Regions from separate parts of the Homo sapiens genome. Here region 2 is linked to region 1. A link means that fine-mapping ties the variant in region 1 to the expression of a gene that starts in the linked region. Tissue or cell type: whole blood. Region 1 holds a variant in brackets; the other region holds the start of a gene. All regions are shown on one strand. Distances are from middle to middle.

Region 1 (2,677 bases):
TGTGCGTGTGCGTGCGTGTGTGCGTGCCTGCGCAGGTGCGTGTGTGCGTGCGTGCCTGCCTAGGTGCACGTATGTGCGCATGCGTGTGTGTGCACTCTCCGGCTCTGGCAGGGCCCGTGGGCAGCGGCTCCCCAGCAGGCAGGAGCGGACACAGTACCCAGGTGCGCGTCTGAAAAGAACCGGGGTTCCCTGGAGAAGCGGCGGATCCAGGCTGGGGCAGGATGGAGGCACTTCCCCCATGGAGGGCAGAGGGAGGAGGAGTCAGCTCCCCACGGAGACGCGCCACCAGCCTCACGGTGGACTCCACTGGTTCTGGGTCAGTGAAAATCCTGCCCCACCTGGCAGCGTGGGCTGAGCAGAGCCATCCATGAAAGGCATGAGCGTCGCATCCATGCCTCTCCTGCCAAAGATGCGTAACCCGGGTCTCTCTGTGATGAGACCTCAGACACGGCCACACGGGGGAACCTTCCCTGAAAGGCCTGGCCTGGAAGCTTCGAAGACGCCAGGACCATGGCAGTCAGGGAAAGGCCCGGGAATGTTCCAGACCGACGGAGACTGAAGACACAATGAGAGCTCGCTGCAATGTGTGGTCCCAGGCTGATCTCCTTCCTGCGAGGGACATCACTGGGCCACGGGGAAGCCCAGGCTGGGGTCTGACCCCGAGGCGTGCCCTGCCCCGGGACGGCTGTGCTGGGTTACGTGAGGCGAAAAACTTCCCGGTTTGTAAAATGCACTCGAGGATGTGGAGTGAGGAGCAAATTCAGCAGCGGACTTTCAGATGGCCCAGCGAAAACATTCTTTGTACTCTACCTGTGACTTTTCTGTAAATGTTTGATTAAACATTTACCCCAAAATGTAAAATACCTGTGCACCCGGCACGCAGGGTGGCAGGGGGGTGACGGGGGCAGCGGGGGCCGAGCAGGAGCCTCAAGGCTGCAGCAGCCGTGCAGTCCACCTCCCTGTCCCGCAGTCAGAACCTAACCCTGAGGCCACTGGGAGCATCGCACGGGCAGCCACGGTGGGGAGGACACCTGCGTGGCCCCGTCCCCCCTGCACCGAGACTATGGGGCCAGCAGCTGGCCTGGTGGTTCTAAGTCATCTGGGGCCTGTCCAGCAATGGCCTAGACCCCTGAGGTCATGGGGTGTGTGGGCCTGGGGGCGCCTCTGCAGATGCCAGGGTCTCAGCCACTCGGGATCCTCCTCCCTGGTGTCCCCTGGAGACAGCCTGTGCCTGACCAGTGCCCTCCATGGAGTGCCCCATACCCTGCTTCGGGATGGGTGATCGGGGGTAGGGGGCAGCCGCAGCCACACAGCACACACACGGGCCATCTGCCACCTGCAGCTGGGGATGGAGCCTTCGTGGCACATTAGATTCTTTCCTTTCTAGAGGCGCTTTGGCACTGGCACACAGTCGCAGCCTCTGAACAGACTCAGACTGGCCACCAGCTGCCCCAAGGGGACGTG[T/C]CCCCTGCCACTCTAAGTGGGAAACCACCTCCCCCAGCAAAGCTGTGTGGGGGCGGCATCCCAGGTCCTGGGGCCATGGGGCCAAGAGTGCAGCTGGGTAGGGTGCTTTGAGTTCCCCATCTCCCAAGAGCTCCCCATCTCCCAAGAAGTTCCCCATCTCCCAAGAGTCCCCATGTCCCAAGAAGCTCCCTATCTCCCAAGAAGGACCCAGGAGTCCCTCTCCTAGGAGGAAGGGAGCACCCACACCAGTCCAGCCCTGGCCAGCGGGACGGTGGCCTTCAGGGCTAGTGGGAGCTGGGCCGGGGGTGGGCAGGGAGAGCTGGGCCCCACCCAGACTAGGAGGACAGCTCCTGCTCCCCAGGGCAGACCCCAGCAGGGGTGACCGGCAGGAGCCTCGGTACTCGGACCGGCTGGGGGCTGGAACACCCTGAGGGGCTGAGGATGCACCCAAACACCCTTCTTAGGTCGAGATGGGGGAAGGAGAAGGGGGTGCTTTTTTGTCTTTTCCTTTAAAATTTATCTCAGGGTGGGCGCGGTGGCTCACGCCTGTAATCCCAGCACTTTGGGAGGTCAAGGCGGGTGGATCACCTGAGGTCAGGAAATCAAGACCAGCCTGGGCAACATGGCAAAACCCCATCCCTACTAAAAATACAAAAATTAGCCAGGTGTGGTGGCGGGCGCCTGTAATCCCAGCTACTCAGGAGGCTGAGGCAGAAGAATCGCTTGAACCAGGGAGTCGGAGGTTGCAGTGAGCCGAGAATGCGCCACGGCACTCCATCCTGGGCGACAGAGCGAGACTTTGTCTCAAAAAATAAAATATACATAAAAACAAAATAAAATGTATCTCGAGGCCAGGTGAGGTCCCTGTAATCCTCAAACTCCTGGGCTCAAGTGATCCTCCTGCCTCAGCCTCCCAGCACTTGGGAACCTTCCGGGGCCTTTCCCTGACTGCGGGCACCCTGGCGTCTGTGAAGCTTTCAGGCCAGGCCTTTCAGGGAAGGTTCCCTGGTGGCTTTGTCTGAGGAAGGTTCCCTGGTGGCTTTGTCTGAGGAAGGTTCCTGGTGGCTTTGTGTGAGGAAGGTTCCCTGGTGGCTTTGTCTGAGGAAGGTTCCTGGTGGCTTTGTCTGAGGAAGGTTCCCTGGTGGCTTTGTCTGAGGAAGGTTCCTGGTGGCTTTGTCTGAGGAAGGTTCCTGGTGGCTTTGTCTGAGGAAGG
Region 2 (2,677 bases), 45 kb before region 1:
AAACCAGTCCAAGCAGAGACCATGAGGACGTGCCAGAAAGTGTAAGACTCTCTATGTGCCTTGTTCCAGGCCCGTCACATTCATCCACATCTGTGGTCCATCACTCTGCACGTGGAAAGGATGAAGTCCTCTGCCTGGCGTCCGGGAGCATTGACAGTCTGGCTCCCACCTTTCTCTTCACGTCCCCATCCCCAATTCCTCCGGGACTAAGAAAGCCCCCGGCTGCCGTGCACCAAGCTTCACGCCTCTGGTGTTGTTCAGTCCTCTGAAATGCCCTCCCAGACCCCGTCTCTTCCTCCTTCCCAAGGCCACATTCCAGCCTGGGCTCCCCGCTCCTCTGGGCCTGACCATCTTATATCTCCACCTGGCTCTGACACACTGTTACCGCCGTCGCCGTCACCTCAGGCATACGGCAGAAGCCATGTGAGAGTCTGAATTACTGAGAACCCTTTATCCACTTACGGGGATAACTGCATCTTCCTGGGAAATGTCAACTCAACTAAAAATAAAGTGCTTCCAGGACTAGCGGCCAGTCTCTACTCTTCATAAAGGGAAAAGGGCAAAAGCCCACTGAAGGTACTTAGGCTGAAAGCAGCCCTCTGTGCTGTGAGACACCTGGCAGAGAAACGAACGATACCTTTATCAGTGGGGCCACAGACCAGTACTAAGTCAGCCTGGAGAATTTATGATTTTATTGCCTATTTAGAATACGATCAAAACCGATGTAACTAGTTTCCCTTCAGCCCGTCAGTAACGCCTTCACCCCAGAGCTTAACACTAAATCCTACAGATAAGCGCTGACCTGGACGCAGGATGGGGACAGGGCACATTACTCTGGAATACAGCCCAACTCGCAGCGCTGTGGGGGCCGCGACTGCCCGCTTCCCCCAGATGCCAAGCAGGGGATGCGGACGAGATGCGGCCCGGGTGGCTCGAGGGCTGCAGCCCCCGCCCGGCCCCTCTCCCGCTCCCCCGACCCTCGCAGGCCCCAGGGCTCCGCCGCACCCCCCAGCACCCCGTCCCGGGCCCGACCCCGAGGCGCGACCCGTACCCCTCAGGGCCGCGGGTCGGGAACACGGTCCCCGCGGCCACCCGGGCCCCGACGGCCCTCCCCGCCCGGCCCTCAGCGCGGCCCCGCCCGCCCGCGGCCTTGACAGCCCGGAAGAAGCGGAGGCGGCGCTGCCCGGCCGTTCCCGCGCCACGCAGCCCTTCCTGGCACCTCGCAGCTCCGCTACGGCCGAGCCGCGGTCTCCCTCACGGCCGCGGGAAGGAGGACGGCGGGGCACGGGCGGCCGCAGGCGCTGCGCTCCGGCTCCGGGAAGCTGCAGCGAGCACTTCCGCTCCGTCCTCCGCGGCGCCGCCTCCAGGGCCCCCAAGATGGCGCGAGGGCGGGGCCAAGGGCTCCAACCATTTCCGCTTCCGGCGCAGACGCGCAGGCCGTTGGCGGGCGGGCCTCCCGGCGGAAGAGACGACAGCGGCGGAAACGCGCACAGGCGCAGCTGCGTCCTCTGGCTCCGGGCCCGGCTAGCTTCGCTCCAGAGATTGCGCGGGCTCAGGGACTAGGCCCGTGGCCACACCCCCCCTTGCGACAAAGACCAATGGAAGCGGGCGTTGCTGGTCGCTAAGAGAACCCTCGGCGGCAAGATGGCAGCGGCGGGCGAGGGCACCCCGAGCTCCCGCGGGCCGCGTCGGGACCCGCCTAGGCGGCCGCCCCGGAACGGTAACGACTGCGGGCCACGGGACAGGTCGCTGGCTGCCCTGGGCTCCATTCAGGGTGCGATCGCTCTACGCCCTCGACCCCCAAATGCTCACCTCGGAAAGTAGAGGTCCAGGTGCCGCGGCGGAGCCAGGGCCGCCCCCGCGTCCCCCACTCCCACAGGACTCGCCGTGCGCCTCGGGCTCGGCTCGCACCCTTCCCCGAGCCCTCCTCCCGCAGCAGGCCAAGCCCTGCAGGGGGTCGCCCCCCGCGGGCTCCTAGCCGGGAAGACCGGGTTCCGGCCGCAGCCTCACAGCCAGCGGGACCTGGGGTTGCCATGGGGATCCCGAAGCCCAGGACTTGGGGCGAGGGCAGGCGCAGGAGCAGCACCAAGCCTCCTGACTTCCTGGCCGGTGCTGTCCAGAAACGCTAGGACGCGTTTCAAAAGCAGTTTTTGCCTGTACTTCCAGCACTTTGGGAGGCCGAGGCGGGTGGATCACCTGAGGTCAGGAGTTCGAGACCAGTGTGGCCAACATGGCGAAACCCGGTCTCTACTAAAAAATACAAAAATTGGCCCGGGGTGGTGCCTCCTGTAGTTCCAGCTACTCGGGAGGCTGAGGCAGGAGAATCGCTTGAACCCAGGAAGCGGAGGTTGCAGAGAGCCGAGATCGCGCCGCTGCACCCCAGCCTGGGCGACAGAGCAAGACTCAGTCTCAAAAAAAAAAAAAAGAGCAGGTTTTGATAGGAACTGTTTCTAGAATCAAATAAACGGGTCTGGAATGAACTCAGAGCTAACACTACTATCTTCAGGTAGAACCTGACCCTGATTTGGGACAGATACAGTAGCCTGTAGTAACCCCCTGCCCTCCTCCCCGACATTTTCCCATAAACCCTGCCCACAAAATGTGCCTGAGGAGCTGGTAGGGAGGGAGCCCTGCCCATTCCTGGAACTGCAGGAGTTGGCGGGTGGCACACCCAGCA

What was found. PIP is the estimated chance that this variant, and not a neighbour inherited with it, causes the effect.
Region 2: it holds the start of MORN1, and the variant in region 1 is fine-mapped to the expression of MORN1 in whole blood (TOPMed, PIP above 0.99).

Annotation. Positions count from the first base shown.
Region 1 is chr1:2,345,997-2,348,673 of GRCh38, reverse strand. The region is part of intron 10 of MORN1 (MORN repeat containing 1); the gene reads left to right. Among named protein-coding and RNA genes, the nearest start is that of MORN1, 44 kb to the left of the region's middle. The variant T/C (reference allele first, on the strand shown) is at 1,465.
Region 2 is chr1:2,390,501-2,393,177 of GRCh38, reverse strand. MORN1 (MORN repeat containing 1) reads left to right here and starts at 1,624. Exons shown (of 14, transcript NM_024848.3): 1 at 1,624-1,720. The coding sequence starts at 1,645. It overlaps RER1 (retention in endoplasmic reticulum sorting receptor 1), which reads right to left and starts at 1,337. Exons shown (of 7, transcript NM_007033.5): 1 at 1,220-1,337. RefSeq lists silencers at 1,052-1,351, 1,452-1,561, 1,692-1,761, 1,922-2,051 and enhancers at 593-1,465, 1,334-1,628.